Homo sapiens: one gene and its partners. The protein of the gene in region 1 interacts with the protein of each later gene in a pairwise test. Each region holds a gene or a part of one and is shown in the gene's direction. Other genes may lie near its edges.

Evidence for each region.
Region 2: the proteins of ITGB4 (region 1) and S1PR3 interact in binary tests that used the Homo sapiens proteins (3 or more experiments, as listed by UniProt).
Region 3: the proteins of ITGB4 (region 1) and POU2AF1 interact in binary tests that used the Homo sapiens proteins (3 or more experiments, as listed by UniProt).

The regions. Positions count from the first base shown.
Region 1 is NC_000017.11:75,731,451-75,738,474, forward strand, and holds part of ITGB4 (integrin beta-4 isoform 1 precursor), read left to right. Parts: intron 1-361; coding exon 362-523; intron 524-712; coding exon 713-789; intron 790-2,039; coding exon 2,040-2,242; intron 2,243-4,600; coding exon 4,601-4,704; intron 4,705-4,837; coding exon 4,838-4,936; intron 4,937-5,114; coding exon 5,115-5,244; intron 5,245-5,286; exon of another isoform or gene 5,287-5,771; intron 5,772-5,871; coding exon 5,872-5,994; intron 5,995-6,087; coding exon 6,088-6,194; intron 6,195-7,024. UniProt on the Homo sapiens protein: Integrin alpha-6/beta-4 is a receptor for laminin. Plays a critical structural role in the hemidesmosome of epithelial cells. Is required for the regulation of keratinocyte polarity and motility.
Region 2 is NC_000009.12:88,994,460-89,001,483, forward strand, and holds part of S1PR3 (sphingosine 1-phosphate receptor 3), read left to right. Parts: exon of another isoform or gene 1-1,683; intron 1,684-6,594; 5' UTR 6,595-6,741; coding exon 6,742-7,024. UniProt on the Homo sapiens protein: Receptor for the lysosphingolipid sphingosine 1-phosphate (S1P). S1P is a bioactive lysophospholipid that elicits diverse physiological effect on most types of cells and tissues.
Region 3 is NC_000011.10:111,355,260-111,362,283, reverse strand, and holds part of POU2AF1 (POU domain class 2-associating factor 1), read left to right. Parts: intron 1-2,893; exon of another isoform or gene 2,894-3,012; intron 3,013-3,365; coding exon 3,366-3,496; intron 3,497-4,446; coding exon 4,447-4,489; intron 4,490-4,573; coding exon 4,574-4,839; intron 4,840-5,850; coding exon of another isoform or gene 5,851-5,868; exon of another isoform or gene 5,869-7,024. UniProt on the Homo sapiens protein: Transcriptional coactivator that specifically associates with either POU2F1/OCT1 or POU2F2/OCT2. It boosts the POU2F1/OCT1 mediated promoter activity and to a lesser extent, that of POU2F2/OCT2. It recognizes the POU domains of POU2F1/OCT1 and POU2F2/OCT2.

The DNA.
Region 1 (7,024 bases):
GCGTGGCCCCTGGAGTCAGGCAGGCCTGGGTGCAGATCCCTGGGCCTAGCCGCTCGGATGAGCCTAGGTTGCTCCTCTGCTTGTTGGTTTCCTCGGCATGCAAGCGTCGAGCCCGGAGGCTTGCTGGGGCAGTAAATGGGTTAGTGTCACGAAGCCCAGAGGCCCTGGCCACTGTCATTGTCGCTATGATTGTGACTGCGCTGGGAAGGAGGGAGTTTCCAGCCCTGAGGGAGGTGAGCAGGAGCTCATTTCAGGGATCCAGACATCTCCTAGGAACTTGGGGGCCGAGGGCCTTCAGGCATCGATGGCCCCCTGGTCCTTGGGGCTGGGCCTGCCTTGGCTGACCACGGGGCCCCTGCAGGGTATATACCAGGTGCAGCTGCGGGCCCTTGAGCACGTGGATGGGACGCACGTGTGCCAGCTGCCGGAGGACCAGAAGGGCAACATCCATCTGAAACCTTCCTTCTCCGACGGCCTCAAGATGGACGCGGGCATCATCTGTGATGTGTGCACCTGCGAGCTGGTACAACGCAGCCCCGCAGGGCGGGAGGGGAGAGCTGAGCCAAGCACCCAGGGACCCTGAGGAATGAAGCAGGACTCCTGTGCCCCATATCCCTTGTGGGGTTTCCCGAGGCACACAGGAGAGCGGAAGTGTCCAGTGGCCCCGGTCCTGCTCCCCCGACGCACCCCACCATGGTCTCTCTCATTCCAGCAAAAAGAGGTGCGGTCAGCTCGCTGCAGCTTCAACGGAGACTTCGTGTGCGGACAGTGTGTGTGCAGCGAGGGCTGGTGAGTGGGGAAGGGAGTTGGGCACCCAGGACACCAGTGGCCCCTGATGGGAAAGCTGGGCTCCTGCAGGGGCCTGGCCCTGGGTGCACCTTGTACACCTGGCTGGGGGTGGGGCGGCAATCAAAGAAACGGCTAAGGGCGGGGCACACCCAGTTGTTGGTCAAACCCAGGTCAAAGCACTTTGAAATACAGAGATATATGGGCTGTCTCTAGAAAGAGGTGTGAGGATTGAGACGGGGTTGGCTGTTGGGGCTGGGGTCTGGATCTTGGGGGACAGGCACACGAGGCTTCCTTTTTGCTCCATGCCTTTGGTATTCTGAGTCCTGTGTCATATTGCCTGATCAGAAGAGAGCTCGTAAATGCACGGCAGTAAGGGCTTTAGCTTCAGGACACTGGGCGAGCTTGCCACAACTTGAGGCAGAGCAGTGGGGAAAGGACACTGGAAGGGGTGACATGACAGGGCACTGGGGTTTAGGTCTCAGCTCAGCCACTTCTGTCTGCATGACTGGGAGCTGCCTCGGCCCTCTCAGAGCCTCAGTTTCCTCATCTGTAAAATGGGACAGCAGGCCAGGCGAGGTGGCTCACACCTGTAATCCCAGCACTTTGGGAGGCCGAGGTGGGTGGATCACCTGAGGTCAGGAGTTCAAGACCAGCCTGGCCAACATGGTGAAATCCCATCTCTACTAAAAATACAAAAAAGTAGCTGGGCGTGGTGGTGCATGCCTGTAATCCCAGCTACTCGGGAGGCTGAGGCAGAATTGCTTGCACCTAGAAGGCGGAGGTTGCCGTGAGCTGAGATCGCGCCACTGCACTCCAGCCTGGGCAAGAAGAGCGAAACTCTGTCTTGAAAAAAAATAAAATAAAATAGGCCAGGCGCGGTGGCTTACGCCTGTAATTTCAGCACTTTGGGAGGCCGAGGTGGGCGGATCACAAGGTCAGGAGATCGAGACCATCCTGGCTAACATGGTGAAACCCCGTCTACTAAAAATACAAAAAATTAGCCGGGCGTAGTGGCGGGTGCCTGTAGTCCCAGCTACTCAGGAGGCTGAGGCAGGAGAATGGCGTGAACCCAAGAGGCAGAGCTTGCAGTGAGCCAAGATCGCGCCACTGCACTCCAGCCTGGGCGACAAGGCGAGACTCCGTCTCAAAAAAAAAAATAAAATAATTAAATTAAATTAAATTAAATGGGACAGCAAAAGCCCCAGCTTTCCTCCTGGGCTGTTTCGGGGAATGACCAGTTCCTCCTTCAGGAGTGGCCAGACCTGCAACTGCTCCACCGGCTCTCTGAGTGACATTCAGCCCTGCCTGCGGGAGGGCGAGGACAAGCCGTGCTCCGGCCGTGGGGAGTGCCAGTGCGGGCACTGTGTGTGCTACGGCGAAGGCCGCTACGAGGGTCAGTTCTGCGAGTATGACAACTTCCAGTGTCCCCGCACTTCCGGGTTCCTCTGCAATGGTGAGCACAACAACTGCGGCCAATGCTGATGGCGGGGTAGGGAGTGGACAGCAAGCATGACTTTCCCGTCAGGACCCAGGTTGGGAGAGCCAGACTTGGAATCAGAATCCCCAAGTTCAGGCCCAGCCCACTCTGGATGCCCTGAGGGCCGCCCCTGAGTCCTGCCCCAACCTGGGCCTGACTTCCCTCATCTGTAACGTCCATGCCCAAGGTCACTGTTGGCAGGACTTTCCCCTGGTTTTAAGATTCCAACTCCCCTGAGGTTCTCTCTGGAAGTTCAGTTCTATGCCCACCCCACTTCTCCACACCCCTATCTCATTAGAGTGGGTGCCACCCAGCTCAGCCCTCCAATGGCTGGCAGGTATATGGCATTATGATCTTTCCTCTCTCCAAAGATGCTAAATTTCTGTGGGTTTTTTGTTGTTGTTGCTGCTGTTTTTTTTTTTTTTTTTTTTTTTTTTGAGACAGAGTTTCACTCTTGTCGCCCAGGCTGGAGTGCAATAGCACAATCTTGGCTCACTGCAACCTCTGCCTCCTGGGTTCAGGCGATTCTCCTGCCTCAGCCTCCCTAGTAGGTGGGACTATAGGCATGCACCACCATGCCCAGCTAATTTTGTATTTTTAGTAGAGACAGGGTTTCACCATGTTGGCCAGGCTGGTCTCGAACTCCTGACCTCAGGTGATCTGCCCGCCTCAGCCTCCCAAAGTACACATCTGTAATCACACCTGGGATTACAGGTGTGAGCCACTGAGCCCGGCCCAAAGATGCTAAATTTCTACCTGGAAGGCCTGGAGCTTCCTCTGTATTCCCATGGGTCCAGGCCATAGGCATACAGTCTGGCCAGGAACATCAGAGCTGGGCAGGATCACAGAACTCAGACAAGGGGACATAGGGAAGGATTGGTAGTTGAATGGAGGAGGATGAATGAAAATCTACTCATCAAATACTTATGAAGCCCTCACTGTATACTTTCCAAGCCCCTGCTTTTCTACTCTTTCTTCTGTTCTTGCTTTTGTTCACCATTTCTTCTCTTCGACTGTCTGTCCCTGAGTGTGCTCAGAGAAACAGAAGAGAGAACTGGGCACCACTGGAGAAAGGCAGACAAGTGGCACAGAGGGAGGTATGAGAGAGGAAGGGAGGAAGGTGCCTCTGGGGAAGGAGGCAGGGCCAGAGTACAAAGGGCTTCGGTTCTAGTCCAGAGCAGGACTTCATCCTTTGGACAAAAGGGGGTCACTGGAGGTTTTACTTTCATTTTCTAACTATTTGCATATTAACCTTGTATCTAGTCACCTTGCTAAACGCACTTATGAAATCTAATAATTTGTCTGTAGATTCTTCTGGATACTTTGTGACATGTTCCTCACACTTGCAAATAAAGACAATTTTATTGATTGATTGATTGATTGATTTTTGAGACGGAGTCTTGCTCTGTCACCCAGGCTAGAGTGCAGTGGCATGATCTCAGCTCACTACAACCTCTGCCTCCCAGGTTCAAGCAATTCTCCTGCCTCAGCCTCCCAAGAAGCTGGGATTACAGGGGCCCACCACCAAGCCCAGCTAATTTTTGTATTTTTAGTGGAAATAGAGTTTCACCATGTTGGCCAGGCTGGTCTTGAACTCCTGAGCTCAAGTGATCCTCCCGCCTCGGCCTCCCAAAGTGTGGGATTACAGGTGTGAGCCACCACGCCCGGCTGACAGTTTTATTTCTTTTTTCTTTTCTTTTTTTTTTTTTTTTTTTGAGACGGAGTCTTGCTCTGTCACCAGGCTGGAGTGCAGTGGCGTGATCTCGGCTCACTGCAACCTCTACCTCCCGGGTTCAAGTGATTCTCCTGCCTCAGCCTCCTGAGTAACTGGGACTACAGGCATGCGCCACCATGACCAGCTAATTTTTGTATTTTTAGTAGAGACGAGGTTTCTCCATGTTGGCCAGGATGGTCTCAGTCTCTTGACCTTGTGATCTGCCCGCCTCAGCCTCCCAAAGTGCTGGGATTACAGGCGTGAGCCACCTTGCCTGGACTTATTTCTTACCTTCTAATGCTTATACATCTTATTTCTTTTTCTGACCTTATTGCATTGGCAGGGACCCATTAGAGGTTCTTAGCCAGGGGAGCAGGAGCCACATGATTGGATTTGTTTTGAGATAATTACTCAGGCTGCAGAGTGGAAGGTAGGTAGGATGGAGGCAGAGATGGAGGGAAGGAGATTCCAGGAAAGTGAGGAAGAGATGACTTCTACCCCAGGCTAGCGGCACCCTGGCTCCCACAGCTCTGTTCCCACAGGCCCTCCCTGCCAGGTGGGCAGCCTGGACTACAGGCACAGATGTAGCTCTCATCTCCCTTCCTTGTCCCTCTCTGCAGACCGAGGACGCTGCTCCATGGGCCAGTGTGTGTGTGAGCCTGGTTGGACAGGCCCAAGCTGTGACTGTCCCCTCAGCAATGCCACCTGCATCGACAGCAATGGGGTAGGCCTGGGCATAAGACAGACAGTGTCTGTCAGCACCACCCACCCTCTCCAGAGAGAACCCTATGGAGAGAGGAGAGGGAGCAGGCAGGGATGGGGCACAGCTGGCTCACTGGTGCCCCCTCCTACCCCAGGGCATCTGTAATGGACGTGGCCACTGTGAGTGTGGCCGCTGCCACTGCCACCAGCAGTCGCTCTACACGGACACCATCTGCGAGATCAACTACTCGGCGGTGAGGCTAAGACCTACGAGGTGTGGGCGTGGGAACAGGGCAGGCACAGGGCAGTGTGGGCAGGAGGGGCTAAGCCTGATGCCACAGGAGCTGGCCAAGGGCAAGAGGTTTGGGGAGCGGGGGTCTGGCAGAGGCCCACCCAACACAGTGCCTGTCTGCCCCGCCTTTCCCCGCCAAGATCCACCCGGGCCTCTGCGAGGACCTACGCTCCTGCGTGCAGTGCCAGGCGTGGGGCACCGGCGAGAAGAAGGGGCGCACGTGTGAGGAATGCAACTTCAAGGTCAAGATGGTGGACGAGCTTAAGAGAGGTAGGGGCAGGGGCTGAGGGTTGGGGTTGCTGAGAGCCTAGGCAGCGGGCATCCAACGGGGCAAGGGTGTCATCACCTGGACGGGGGCTTGCAGTCTGGGCTAAGGTCACACAGTCCGGACAGGAACTCCAGAGCTGGGAGGGACCACAGAACCCAGATAGAGGACACCGAATCCCAGAAAAGGGTAAAAGCCTGAGCAGGAGGCACAGAACCCAGGCGGTGGGACACAGTCTGGCCCAGGAAGGGACCAAGAGTCTTGGTGGGAGGCACCTGACTTGGGCAGGGGCATGCACCCAGCAGGGGTACATGGTCACGCTGTGGAGACACGCAGCCTCCCCTCCTCGAGATCAGATACGTTTTCTGGACCCTGAGTTCCTGGGTGATGTCCAGGTCAGGGAAGTGGGGGAGGTAGGTTTCTAGGCTCTGATGCTCCTGAGCAGGGGAGCCCCCACCACACCCGTTCCTGTGCCTGGTGAGAGCACGGCTTTGCAAGGACTTCCACTCTTCCCCAGGAGGCCCTGCCGTGGGTGAGGCAGATCGCAGAGTAGGGGCCCCCTCACCAGACCCTGGGTCCTCTGGGGCGGAGGGGTGTGGCTGGGGTGCCCTGCTGACTGGCTGTGGGTACAGCCGAGGAGGTGGTGGTGCGCTGCTCCTTCCGGGACGAGGATGACGACTGCACCTACAGCTACACCATGGAAGGTGACGGCGCCCCTGGGCCCAACAGCACTGTCCTGGTGCACAAGAAGAAGGGTGAGCTGGTGGGGCCGGGCGCAGGGAGGGGGCGTGTGGCCAGAGCTCGGTGGGGAGGACAGGCACCACCTCCCCCTGCCTCCTCCTCTCCAGACTGCCCTCCGGGCTCCTTCTGGTGGCTCATCCCCCTGCTCCTCCTCCTCCTGCCGCTCCTGGCCCTGCTACTGCTGCTATGCTGGAAGTACTGTGCCTGCTGCAAGGTGAGCACCCAGGGTGCCTCCCAAGGCCCCACATCCCAGGGTCCCCACCCCAACAGGGCCCCCACCCTCCACCAGGGTCCCCAGTCCCCGCCTGAGTTCTCATCTCCCCAGGGTCCCCAACCCCTTCCTGGGTCCCCACCTCCCCAGGGTCCCCATCCCAACAGGGTCCCCATCCTCCACCACGGTCCCCACCTCCCCAGTGTCCTCAACCCCCTCCTGGGTCCCCACCTCACCAGGGTCCCCTCTCTGACAGGGTCTCCACCCTCCATCAGGGTCCTCCTCAGGGTCCCCAACCCCCACCAGGGTCCCCAGCCTCTCCACCCACCATCCCCACTCCTGCAGCTTTCTAGCCAGAGGCTTCAGCCCGTAGAGTCCAGCTGTCTGGATTCTGGTCCCAGCTCTGTGACCTTGGGCAAATTACTTAATCTCTCCATGCCTCAGTTCCCTCATCTGTAAAATGAAGATCATAGAATTGACCTCAGAAAGTGGAGCTGAAGCTTAAATTAGTGAAGTTCAGAAGGGACTGACCCATAGCATGCACCATCGCCCCCACCCCCACCTTGGCAAGACCCACACCAACCCCATCCAGCTTCCGGAGTGACAGTAATGATGATGACACCCATGAGCTCTTAGCCCGAGTCATCCTGGAGCCCCAGCCCCCAGCTCAGCCCTTGCCAGCATCCGTTCTCTGCTTAGCTCAGTGTTCCTCTTTGTGCTGTCGCCACAGCATGTCCACGTGACTCCATTTCCCCGCCCCCCATCACCCCATGAGGTCAGTGGGGCAAGGTCACCATGCCCTATGACAGATGGAGAAATTGGGGCTGAGAGGC
Region 2 (7,024 bases), on another chromosome or scaffold:
CTGTGGATTCATCCCTGTGGAAATCTTGAGAATCATTTATCCTATGCTGTCATGAAGCAGCAGCAGAATGGAGAAGGTTTAAAAAGACTCATGGACAGGCAAAGCGGTCAAACACCTCCTGGCTCAGACGCACTTGCCTTCCCACACACAAGTCTGGAAGCTCAGGATGGTGTTCACGGAGGCAGATGCTCGGGGCCGGGGCCTGAGTTTCCTGGGGCACAGCCTCCATATCTGGGGTTCCCTGGACTATGCCCAGATAGCTCATAATGTCCCAGCCTTATTTGTGATGGAGAAGGACTTGGGGAAAAGCCACCGGGAAGCAGTAAGTCTAACCAGGGAAGTGCACTGACTTGCATGCTTTGAAGAAGAGAAGGGAGAAAAGATACAAAACCCTCACCTGGTTTGTCTGTAACAGTTGTTATTTCTCAGGGGAGCTGCATTAATGGGCCAAGCCTGTGCAGCTGGGTGTGTGAAGCATGCATTTTGCAATGGACTGTCTCCAAAAGCAGAGCGAGGTCACCCAAGAAATCTAGAGCAAGGGAAAATACTCATTAGCAAAGGAATTTTGCTGGAGCCTTGTAACGGCCGACTCATTATTTCCTTTCCAAGTTATTTTAAATGAAATTTTAAAAAACATCTTGCTTTCCAAGAAATTTTGCTTGTTGGCATATGTTTGGTGTTTTGATTCAGTTTGGAGGATGAACTAGTTAATTTCCCTGGGAGTACATGCCTATTAAAAATATAGCATCCTGCATCTGACCAAGATGCTATCTTACTATCTTATTGTGCCTATCTTTTATGCGGAGAGAGAAAGGGGGGTGTTGGGAAGGAGACCAGACTGTGGAAACATTTTCTTTATTTTTTCTCTTTTTCTTCCTTTTATAGTTTGTTTATTTTTCAACTTGACATGGGTAGAGAAAGCGAATCGCTAGTATAGAAAGCACATCTGGAATCCATCCGGCCTCCTCTCTCTGGCTCACCCTCCTCCCAGCAATGTTTCTCCTTGGAAGTTGGGGGAAGGTAGGCACCTCTGACCTTGGCAGGGTCTAACTTGGGGTCATCCACTGCATACTCATCTTCCAGAAGGCGTCTTATTCCTCCTCGACAAAAAAAAAATGTGTTGGTATTAAAATGCTTTGAGGTAGGCTGGATGAACCCAGCTTAGTGAGGATGACATGAAAACCCTTAGCTAATGGGGTCTTTATTGAGTAGAACTCAGGTAAGTTCAGATGTAAGCAGTGTCTCTCAGTAAACATGAAAAGACTGAAGATGCAGACAATCAAATACTTAAGTCTCTTGAAGAGCTGGGTGGTGGGCGGGGGTCTTCCCAGGTGGTCAGGGAGATGTGTTAGTGTAGCACTTGGAAGAGAGTGGAACGACCAGGCAAGGATGTGCCGTGGAGGTGGGCAGTGGGAGCAGCCCAGTGTCAGCATCTGTATTGGTTAGAAGACCACCGCTAATGAGGAGGAGCGTCTCTACCCTGCAGCTGTCTGTACTCCTGTGTCTTCCGTAATGTGCCAAGCTCTCTGAATATATGCAAAACTAGTCTGCAAAAAGCCATATGTCTCAGCATCTGGCTTTATTTCTAAGTGTTCAGGTGGAATTTAAGCCGCGATCAAATTTACAATGTCACTGCCAGCTCTGGACACTTACTTTTGGAATAAAGCAAAGAGTGAACACTAATACTGCATCAGTCTTGCCCTCTGTTAGGGGCCGCCCCTTCTCCCCACACCAGTTTTGCAAGATGGGCTGGCTGGGGTCTGAGAAACCCAGTGCCTCCGAGTCATGGTTAAAGCCCATCTCAGACACCAACACACCGCTCACAAATCAACATCGACCTGCGAAAACATGGACATGTGTTCGCCAAGAGAACATCCTCAATCAATCCCAGCAGTGCTACTTGATGATAATCAACACATGGGCCATGGAAGAAATTACCCCATGTCCATAAACAAGAATGAATAGAGGGTAGTGTATCTACCCACACCATGAGAGCAAGAATATTCAGCATGCAGGTGCATCTATGTGCATGACTCGTACAAGCATCATGGGGAGAGGAAAGCAATGGACACAATTGTATCCTGTAGGGTTTCATTCACGTGAAGGTCAGAAGCAGGCTAAACTCACCTAGGGGAGAGTCCTATCCCAGGTAGTGGTCATGCTTGGGGACAGGTGGTGACTAGGAGGGGCACAAGGAAGGCTGCAGGGTCCGGCCCATCTTGTTGCTGGCCTGGGTGCTGGTCTCACTGATCTCTGTGTGGTGGGGCAGGTCAGCCTCCCAGGCCTGCTGGTGCCTGCAGTGCCCAGCACTCCTGCCGTGCCTGGCAGTGTTAGTACCAATCCGCCAGAGTGACTGACTCCCCTCTTGCCCTGAGTAGGGCTTGCTGACTCCAGGAGCCTCAGGGCGGGGTGGGCTTTGAGCTTTCTTCTAGCAAACTTGAGGTCTGTGGCTGGTACCCCTCAGGAGCGGAGGGGAACTCTTGTCCATGAGATGCTTTTAACCGTGCGCAATAATGTGTAGACGCATCCAAAATCAATCTGGCCTTTAGCCCAGCACTTAACTCTTGGGATGAGGCCTGCTTTGTAAATGTTGATAATCCAGAGAAAATGAGCTTTTAGATTCCAAAGACAGCCAGATATCTTCCACTTATGCAAAATGCAGAGAATCATATTTAACAAAAGATGTTCTGGACAAATATGCTTCTTGAGGGATGAATATTTAATTATAAGGGAAATGATAAATCAAACATTAATGGGAAAATATGTTTGCCCTCAAGATTCATGATTTTGATGGGTCTCTGGCAAATCTTATACTATGTTTATTGGGGTTATTTTATTGCTGGTTATTAGTTTTTAATTGTTTGCTTGTTTTCTGCTCTGATCAATTTTTGTATAAGCCGTGGGTCTATTCACCCTCTTCTCTCCATTCCCGGGAGCAAGTCCACATCTGGCTGTTGGATGCATGGCAAAAGCAAAGGTGTGGAGAAGGTTCAGAGGAGACAGGACATGTATAAAATGGTAGGGTCAGGTTGTCATGGGGGAAACTGAGGCACAGGAGGCAAGCTGAGTTAGTACAAGAACAGTCTGAATCATAACGACATGCCAGTATTACCTAAAAGGATGAGGAACATGGAGCTGTACTTGAATCCCTACGTGAGCTGGGGAAAAGGGGCCTCAGGAATCACTGACATTGGAACCAAGGTTTGTCTGCAGCTTGTCGGTTTCTGGGACAGAAACCCAACATACTGGAGTGGGTATCCCAGCAATCTGTAGGATAAACCAGGACACTGTGGTGTCATGGATAGCTGGCTGTCTGCCAGGTGATGGCCCCTCTGGTTGCAATGTGAGCCGGGCAGGTCATCCATTTGGCAGCATGGTGAGGGCTCTGGCCCCAGTTGCTATGGGAGGGAGGATGCTGGCACAGGGCACTGTTCACAGACTGCCTTTGCTCCATGCCTTTTCCATGAGCATGAGTGGCTGTTCGTGTGGGAAACGGCAGAGCCCTCGCGGTCCCCATCAGCACTGTGCAGTGGTACCGGAGGTGGCAGGAGACAGCCTGATGGCCCAGGTTGTCTTCATACCCGGCTTCATGCCAGGGTGCATGCCGGGCATAGCACATGTGTCCCTGAGAGGCCCCTGATCAGGGGTGGAAACCCAGCAAAGTGAAAATCAGAAATAGTGATTCTCCAGTTCCTGTTCACAGATAAAGAAAGAAAGAAATAATAAGCAATACTAGGCCTGGTGTGGTAGTTCACACCTGTAATCCCAGCACTTTGGGAGGCCAAGGCAGGCAATCACTTGAGGTCAGGAGTTCAAGACCAGCCTGGCCAACATGGTGAAACCCCGTCTCTACTAAAAATACAAATATTAGCCGGGCATGGTGGCGGGCGCCTGTAGTCCCAGCTACTCAGGAGGCTGAGGCAGAAGAATCGCTTGAACCGGGGAGGCGGAGGGTGTGGTGAGCCGGGATCGCACCGCTGCACTCCAGCCTGGGTGACAGAATGAGACTCCATCCCAAAAACAAAACAAAACAAAACAAAAAACAAACAAAAACAACTAAAAGGACAGTATCTTTTTAGCACCCATCAGTGTACAGGATGCTGGGGAGGGTACTGTGAACTTACCCATGGTGAAAGTCCCTGTGTTAATGGATAAGCTCAATGCTCAGAAAATGCTGCTGACTGTGGTATTGCCCCATTTAAAGAGACAGTTTGCAGTACGTTTTCAGAAGTGGCATGCAGCCTCAGAGAAAAGTCACCAGGGGCTGGCATGATTCCAGAAAATGTTACAGAGCAAGTGGAATTTGACTTGAGGCTTGAAGGATGGGCAAGATTTAAATAAAATTCAGAAACGGTAGAGAGGGAGGGGCTGGGGGGAAGGCTGCCCACTGGACTGTCCTGTTTGCCTCCAGGAGAACCTACAGGCAAGACATGGTCTCTTCTCAGGTGAATGGGAAGCCAAGTAGGGCTGGCATGGGTGAGCCACAGCTCGAGGAGGCAGGCCCCGGGCCCTGCGCTGCCTGTCATGGCTCATGAGTGATGGGAGAGATCTGGGCAGGCAACCTCCTCTCATCCTGCATCATCAGCCTGGACTTGGAACTTGGCTGCTTTTTCTTTCTGCAGTTAGCAGAGGGCCTTGGCCAACACATAAGCCTTTCTGCCAGCACTTGGCATTCCAGCTGACCTCGACCCAAGGCCTCTGTGACTTCAGGAGGCGGCAGCTGGGAAGGGTCAGGGCAGTTCCAGGCAGAGCACAGACGTCAGCTCAGACATCCTACCCCCCGCCAACCCCCCGCCCCCGGGGTTTCCAGAGCAACCAACACCACCAAGCTCCAGGACACTGGAAAAAAAATCTTTGCAAAGAAGCAAGGGGCCATCTCAGAAAATCCAGGTCCCCCAAATTGATGTAGGGAGAGGAGGGCTTTGACAGCATTCAGCACTCCAGAGGGTCACGAGGATACAGAAACCATTTGGAGCCACCTCTGCTTCTCAGCCCCACCCAGGCAAGCCCTGGATCTTCAAGGGACTGATTTGTACCTGGGAATAAACTCATGCATGGATGAGATTCAGAGTCAATCACACCCTAAAATGCAGAGCCCATAGTATTGGTGAGTTGTTCATGTGTCTCTGAAGCAAATTTAGGGCTGTGGTTCAAACATCGTAAAAGTTAAAAAAAATTCACTGGATACACACAGTAGGCTCTTTTAAATTAGCCTCATTTGAACTTAATTACATATTTAAATACTCAAATAATAAATGATGGCTGGGTGCGGTGTCTCATGCCTGTAATCCCAGCACTTTGGGAGGCTGAGGCAGGCTGATCACTTGAGGTCAGGAGTTCGAGCCCAGCCTGGCCAACATGGTGAAACCCCGTCTCTACTAAAAATACAAAAATTAGCCATGCATGGTGGCGGGTGCCTGTAATCCCAGCTACTTGGGAGGCTGAGGCAGCAGAAGCACTTGAACCCAGGAGGCAGTGGTTGCAATGAGCCGAGATCGCACCACTGCATTCCAGCCTGGGTGACAGAGCAACACTGTGTCTCAAAAGAAAATTTTTTTTAATAAAAATAAAAAATAAAATAAAATAAGTGAGTCCACTGAAAGCGGTTTCTACCTTGATAGTTGGGTGTGTGGCGTCATCAACATCACAGAAGGCTGATCGATATTACCAGGTGTGGTTGAGTGCAAGTGTTTGAGGTCTCGTGGGGGAAGAGTTTGGAATTCAGAATCCATTGAGGCCTTCACTCACCACTTTCCCTCTCTCGCTGTGTTCCCAAATGTGCCACTTTTCTGTTGGCTCACATGCACCCATGCTCTATTTGATATTCAGGGCTCTGAATTTCAAGCCAGACTCAGTCAGTGTGATTGTCACTGCTTTCCTGTCCTTCCTTTATCATCTGTAGACTTGGGTCCCGTTTTTGCAGGTTGATGTTCTGTCTTCGCTGGGCTCTGGACTCACTGCTCACGAGTGCGGTGTCTGCATGGGCACTGCCCAGACATGCACTGTTGGTCCCTCGATGGCTGCATGGTCAGGCCTCAGGGCTCTCTGCCAGGCCGACCTACAGCCCATACAGACCTGATTTCTGGGCCTGGATCCAGGGGATGCCATCTGGGAAGTGCGGGATCTTCCCACGATGTCACTGTAAAACTCACCAGGGAGGTTTTAGAAATTGAACCGGCATCATTCAGATTCCATCCTGCTTTTTGGTCCTGAGAAAATCCTGCTTTTCCCTGAGTAACTGGGATAATGGGTCACCAGCTCCCATGCCCTAGATGAGGACTAGTTAGCATTTTCTAGTGCCTGGAGATTTCCAGATGGAAGCTGTACTTGGGTCTGTGTATCTTTGTTACAGGATTCAATAATTCATGCACTGAATTTCCCTTCCCGGCAACTCCAGACACCAAATCGCTTCCCATGGTGTCCCCCAATCACTTAGGAATTTAGCCTGTGTCTAAAGACCCTCTCTGCAGCCTGACGTGGCTAGCCATCCCAGTACTTCCACGTTTTTCATGCCTTTCTCCAACAGCGTTGCCGTGGCCCCTTAGGCGGCGATCGTTTTATCAATGGTCGCTCCCTCTTTTTATCTGTTGGCAGGAGCCCTTTTTCAACGCCCTCGCTGGAGTCTGGCCTGCACGCCTTGCTGAATGAAGCCGGAACCTCAGCCCCGCTTCCCTTTGAAATGAATGTTCCTGGGGCGCCCTCTCGTGGATTTTGGAGCTAATCGTCTGTGAATGCCAAGTGATGGCAACTGCCCTCCCGCCGCGTCTCCAGCCGGTGCGGGGGAACGAGACCCTGCGGGAGCATTACCAGTACGTGGGGAAGTTGGCGGGCAGGCTGAAGGAGGCCTCCGAGGGCAGCACGCTCACCACCGTGCTCTTCTTGGTCATCTGCAGCTTCATCGTCTTGGAGAACCTGATGGTTTTGATTGCCATCTGGAAAAACAATAAATTTCACAACCGCATGTACTTTTTCATTGGCAACCTGGCTCTCTGCGACCTGCTGGCCGGCATCGCTTACAAGGTCA
Region 3 (7,024 bases), on another chromosome or scaffold:
GGGGATGGGTGCTTTATTTACCCTGATGTGATGAGTGTGCATTGCATGCCCGTATCCAAATATCTTGTGTACCCCATAAATATATACACTGACTATGTACTCATAAAGATTAAAACCAAAAATGCTGACGTGGCCATGGGGTGACCCTGAGAAAGAGTGAGTTGAGTGTGGCAGGGCAGGTGCCCTGTTCGCTGACACGTCAGATTGTACCTGGGGCCTGTGGTCATCGCTGGGCACCACCCAGCAGTAGGGAAAGTGGCAAATGGAACTTGTGCAAGAGTGACTCACCCAGAAGGAAGGTGGGGAGACTAAAACCATGTCATTTAGAAATAGCTGAAGGAATGAGAAGTCCCTTCAGACCTAGGGGGACACCTGGTATCTGTCCTCAGATTTCGGAAGGGAATATTACTACTAATACTCATGATAATCGGAGCTCACATGTATTAAATGCTCTGTGCCAAACTCTATTCCAAGCACTTCACATGCAAATCTTAAATTACCCTACAACATACATACCATTATGATCTTCACTTTATAGATGAGACAGCTGTAAATGGACTAAGAAATGTGAGTTTCATTAGAAGGTAATGGAGGGAAATATGGCATGTGTTACCATAAGTTAGCCTCAGTAGGAGGAAGAGCTGTCTGACATGATAATATCCCCCCGAAAGGAAGGTGGAAATGGCCAGAAGGAAGATAATTAAAACCACATGTATTGAGCATCTACCCTATGCCAGACATGGCCTTTGGAGCTCCCCATGTATTATTTTGGTTAATCCTCACAACCACTGTGTGAGAGAAGAATTATTATTCCCGTTTTACAAATGAGGAAATTGAAGCCCAGAGACATTAAATAAATCTAAGAACTTTCCACCAGTAAGTGACAGCCCAGATTTGAATACAGGTATGTGTGGTTCTCAAGTCTACTGTCATTGGTGTTCAGAGCAAAGGTGGAGGCGCACAGGTGGCCCCGGGGCACAGAACCAGGCTGGTTCCCCTGCTAGACACTCCTATAGCAGCCTGAATTTCACAAGTTGTGACACATTCATCTGCTGGTAACTTTTGTTGCTTGTCTTCCCCGTTAGACTGCAAGATCCACGTGGGCGGGGGCTCCATGGGTCCTGTGCAGTGCTGTACTCCTAGGCACTAGAAATATTTGAAAAAATGAATGAATACCAGTAGAGATCTCTTGTTCAGACAGGGGAAGTTAAAATAAGGATAATGAATCTCCTATTGGGATGTTATCGGGAGATTCTTATGTTAAATTAGGAATGGATTATCAGCAGTTGTAATCCCAGTATATTTTCAGAAATACTGGACAGATTTTTTTTTTTTTTTTTTGAGACAGAGTCTCTCTCTGTTGCCAGGCTGGAGTGCAATGGTGTGATCTCAGCTCACTGCAACCTCCACCTCCCAGGTTCAAGCCATTCCCCTGAGTCAGCCTCCCAAGTAACTGGGATTACAGGTGCCTGCCACCACATCTGGCTAATTTTTTGTATTTCAGTAAATATGGGCTTTCACCATGTTGGTCAGGATGGTCTTAATCTCCTGACCTTGTGATCCACTCACCTCAGCCTCCCAAGAGAGATTTTTATACATACAGATTCCTAGGCCTATATCAGCCCCCTAGAATCAGACTTTCCTGGAGCAGGACCTGTACCTGTATATTGCATCATTTCCTGGTTGATTTGCTACCTGGCCAGCTGAGGGACCTTGGAGGATGGGTCTAAAGTCCACCTGAGATACTGGGATTCCTGACCCCCAACATCTGCCCCTGGGACTCATTTCCCACTTCCTGTTGCCTCTGCCCAAGCTTCTCTCTGCCTTCTGGGCTTCAAGGCCAGGCCTTGCTCGTGGCTGGAGCCTGGAGGGAGGTCTGGTGCCGAGTCAGGCATGGGACCTTATCAGCTGGGTATTTACTGAGCAAAGTTCAACCAGGGCAGTGCTGCAGATCCGGGTTTAACAGATACCTAGGCTTCCGGGACTTTGATTCAGAGCCCAGGTCCCTGGGGCCCTTATCGGTGGATAATAATGGGCTCCCTGTGGAAGTCCTAAGGTCTAGTGTTTCTTGGCTGACCCAGGCCTGCTCTCTGAGAGCCCAGGATCCCTAGGCCACAGGCTGTCTAGGTGGGCAGCTTGTTGCTTCCCAGCCACGGCTGCTTTTCAGTTGCTCTCCCAGGCCAGGAAGGGCCCTATGCACTGGCTCTTATTTGGGTCAATGCTTTGGTTTCCTGGCTTTGATGGCAAGAGGGGAAGGAAACCTTCCCTCAGCAGCAGGTGGACACTGTCTGGCCCCAGGGTACAAGGATCACCCTTGGGTAATTGTCCCATGCCCTGAAAGTCACTGAGAACCTGGGAGCCACTTGCCTCAATCCTAAAGGTGTAGGAGAGGTGAAGGGAAGACAAATGGCAGCATGTCTTAAAGAATCACCCAATCGATTAATCAATAAGTATCAACTGAGCTTAAAACGCATGGGCATGCCACTGGGAAGACATAGAGAAATAAGGTACAATAACTCACCTTGAGACGTTTATAATCTAGTTGTGGGTATAAGACACTTCCATCAAAAAGAATAACTATTACATAATAGACTGAATTTTTTTGAATGCCTACCCTGTACCTGAATTTATTTGAGGCATATACTGTTCTACCAATTTCCCACATCAAGTGACTTCTCTCAATATTCCTTTGATAAAGAAACTGAAGATTAAGAGGCACAGAGAGGTTTAGTAACTTGCCCAGGATCACACAGGAAGGTGGTGGCAGGGGCAGGATTTGAGGCCTGTGCTATCTGGCTCAGAGTCCCTGCTCTTATGGCTGTCCTCTACTGCCACCTATGATGAATACTAATCAGATCTGGAAATGTTTGAGAAGCTGTAGAATGTGGAAATTACTCAGGCTGCAGGGGTCAGGCAGGAGGGTTGCATTTGTCTTGTGTCAGCAAGAATCAAGAGGTTGGAAGAAGTGAGAGGGAATTCTGACCACGGAAAACCTCAACCACAGATGAGGAGGTGAGACACGCAGGAACACGTAGAGAACACAGACAGACCTTCTGGTTGGAGACAGGGTTTGTGTAGTAGGGAGTGTGCAAAGTGGTGAGAAAAATGGGTTCGGATCTCATTCTGAAGACTGTCCAATTCTAGGACAAGGAGCTGGGCCTTCGTTGTCTGGGTGCAGGGGACCCACAGAAGGTTTGGGAGTAGGAGGAGTGACAATACTGGAGAGGCATTCTAGGAAGTGTCACGTGGTTCTCCGTGTTCAAGCACGACTTAGGGGAGCAGGCAGATCCATGAGGAAATGAGCACTTTGGGGTGGGGGCTCGTCTGAGAAGGACCATGGGCTCCAGGGACATTGCTTTTCACAGCCACAGCTCCGGAGCAAGCCCCAGCCCCGGCCCGGCCATACCAGGGCGTCCGTGTGAAGGAGCCAGTGAAGGAACTGCTGAGGAGGAAGCGAGGCCACGCCAGCAGTGGGGCAGCACCTGCACCTACGGCGGTGAGAGTTTGTGTGTGTGAGAGTGTGAGTGTGTGTGTGTGAAAGAGAATGTGTGTGTCAGGGATAGTGTGAGAGTGTATGTGTGTGTGAGTATGTGTATGCGTGTGTGTATGTGTTTGTGTGTGATAGAGTGTGTGAGAGTGTGATAGTGTGAGAGAGAATGTGTATCTGCGTCAGTGTGTGAGAGTGTATGTGTGTGTGAGGGAGTGTGAGTGTGTGAGTGTATGCATGTGAGTGTGTATGTGTTTGTGTGTGATGGCGTGTGTGAGTGTGTGATAGTGTGAGAGAGAATGTGTATGTGTCAGTGTGTGAGAATGTATGTGTGTGAGAGAGTGTGTGTGTGTGAGAGTGAGTGTGAGAGTGTGAGCGTGTGTGTGAGAGAGTATGTGTGTGAGGGAGTGTGTGTGAGAGAGTGTGTGAGTGTGTGAGAGTGTGAGTGTGAGAGTGTGAGAGTGTGTGAGAGAGTACGTGTGTGAGAGAGTGTGTGTGTTTGTGTGAGAATGTGTGTGCGCGCAGGCAGATGGCTTGGGAGGTGACCAAAAGGATCAGGCAGGAAGGAGCGCAGGTCCCTTGGTGGAGGCTGCCAGGGATAGAGCTAGGGTGGAGCAACTGGGATGAGGGATCAGGGCCGGCTCAGCTGGCCCACCGAACACAGCTACTGTCAAGGCCTGAGTGAGCGAATGACTTGCATACCCTGGTGTGAGTTGGGGGCCCCCCCTGAGAAGAAGAAGACACCAGCTCCCTGAGCGCACAGACTTCCTGCTAAATAGAAACGCAAATCTCTCAAGTGTAGGTGGTGATGGTTGGGATACGGGGTGGGATGTTTTGTTCTAACCAGAGAGATTCCTATCTTCTATTCTCCTGCCCTGAGGCCCTCTGGGCAAGTTCTCTGCACAGGGCCGGTTGACGAGGGCTAAACATTGACCCTGGTCTTCTCCTCTCCCCTCTAGGTGGTGCTGCCCCATCAGCCCCTGGCGACCTACACCACAGTGGGTAAGAGTGCCCCGTAGCCCTGGTGGCCCCCAGGCCTCTCATCTGGGTGGCATCTGAAGTTCTGTAATTTCCTTCTTCCCACAGGTCCTTCCTGCCTGGACATGGAAGGTTCTGTGTCTGCAGTGACAGAGGAGGCTGCCCTGTGTGCCGGCTGGCTCTCCCAGCCCACCCCGGCCACCCTGCAGCCCCTGGCCCCATGGACACCTTACACCGAGTATGTGCCCCATGAAGCTGTCAGCTGCCCCTACTCAGCTGACATGTATGTGCAGCCCGTGTGCCCCAGCTACACGGTGGTGGGGCCCTCCTCAGTGTTGACCTATGCCTCTCCGCCACTCATCACCAATGTCACGGTATGTCACACAAAGGCAGGACTGCACCCGCCCATGCTGAGTGCACCCTTTTATAACCAGAGCTGACTTCTCGATCCTGATCTTCCTTGCTATTGATTCTCAAGATAATCAGGTCATCAGAGCTCGCCTTGGTCTCCATGGAGGCCTGCTCTGATTCTCATTTCCTGAGATAACTTCCACAAAGATGTCTCGCAGCCTCTCTCGTCATACTTTCTGCTCCTCAGGACTGGGGAGGTCTTCTCTGATTCCCTGTTCTAAATCTCCCCAGCTTCCCTGCAAGCAGTGAGTCTTGGTTCTGAGTTGAAGTTTTTAGTGAATGTGGCACCAGGCGAGATCTACATGGGGTCTTGTGTTGGAACTAGCCTTTCATTTCTATTCAGATAACTTAGGGAGTGATTGTTCACTTAATAATGGGGTTTAACAGAAGATTTCTAGGCTGAACAACAGGTGATATTTTTGATGGTGTCAGACCCACGTGTGGGGTAATTTTTTAAAGTTCTGTCTCTACTGTCAGATTGCCTTGTTCAAATCCCTGTCCCTTCACTTACTAGCTATGTGACTCTGGGTTTAGTGACTTAAAACTCTCTGAGCCTCAGTGTCCTCATCTGTAAAATGGGAATACCAAGAAAAGGGTCGTTGTCAGGATCAAATGAAATAATGAGTGTGGAGGGCTTAGCACAGTGTCTGGCATACAGAAACCACTAATATATGTTAGTTATCATCATATCAAAATCTGCTAACATTAACCAAGGGCTTGATGGGAAAGGAAGAGCCTCTTCCCCCGGGAATGAAGGAAGGAAGGGAAATAGATTTATGTTAATGATTCCTGTTCGACTAAAGGACTGGGAATTTTGCAAGTATTCAAGGGCAAAAAGACCTGTGGTTACAGCTGTATCCAGCTCCAGTCCAGGGAAACCGTGGGAAGTAGAGCTGGGCCTTGAGCAGTCCCAGAGCCCACCTTCGATGGTGGTGCTTGCTTTGGTCCACCTTGTCTCTTCCATTTCCCTCCAGGGTCCAGTGTCATCCTGATGCACCTGCCCCTGCCTCCAAGCACCTTCTATGAAAGGCCTGCAGAAGCCCTTCCCTCCCAGGTCCACCTGCCTACCCAGCAAACCAATTTTGGAGCCTGGATGATGATAGATAAGAAGGAGTTAATCCAACACCTCTCCCAGGCAACTCATTTCCATGTCAGAGGCCTGGGGTGAGGGTGGTGGGTGGAGGACTCACGGCTCCCACCCATTTCATTACCAAGGATTCCTTTCATTATTTATCCCCTTTCATCATTCCCACCTTCTGCTTTGAAAGGTTCTGTATATCAAACAAACAGTATTCATTAAGAATTGATTTATTTGTTTTGCCATTTTGTAAATTAAGTCATCAAAGCTGGCTAGAGCTGTAAGTCCACACTCCTGATCAGCAGAGATAAGACCTGCTGTGTGCTGAGTGGAAGTAATTGTATTCCCGAGCAAAGAAACCTATAGTTACAGGTTTATGACTGGGAAATGTAGAATTTCCATCTGGATTTTTGAAAAGCTGGGAATCATGAGGCTTTCCCGGATTCTGTCTGGTTTCAGGACACTGGGATGGGGACCACTGGCTTAAGTCAAAGGAGAGGAAGTGATTATGCTGTGGTGGGGTGTACACCTCAGCCCGGATTTCAGGAGGCTGGAAGGCCTCTGAGACCATTTCCAGCTCTATCATTCTGTGCAAAAACACCCTAAAGCCTTGCTACTCAAACTCTTGTCCCTGGACTGGCCACATTGGAGTCCCCCTGAGATCTGATTAGACATGCAAAATCCCAGGCCCCACTCTAGACTTCCTGTGCCAGAAGCTGCGTTCTAACAAGATCCCCAGGAGGTTGAGAAAAGCCCTGCCCTAAATGATTCTAACAGTTTGCTGTCAAGACACAGTGACAGTAGGAGGGATATATGACAGGGGAGACAGGGATGGTAGGGGGAGATTTTGGCCTCCCTCTCATGAATCCATGCAGAGAGCATCCTCTTCTATCTGCTTTCCTCAAGTGTGAAAGAAAAGTAAGAATCCAGGTCCCGCCCCTGTTGCAGGCCTGATCTGAGGTTTGTGAGGGCAGTCGCCGTGCAGGTGAGAGGTATGACTCGCAGAGCATTCAGGAGAAGGACTCTAACACTTGGAGGGTCATGGGGGGTGCCCATAAGTGGGATGGCCA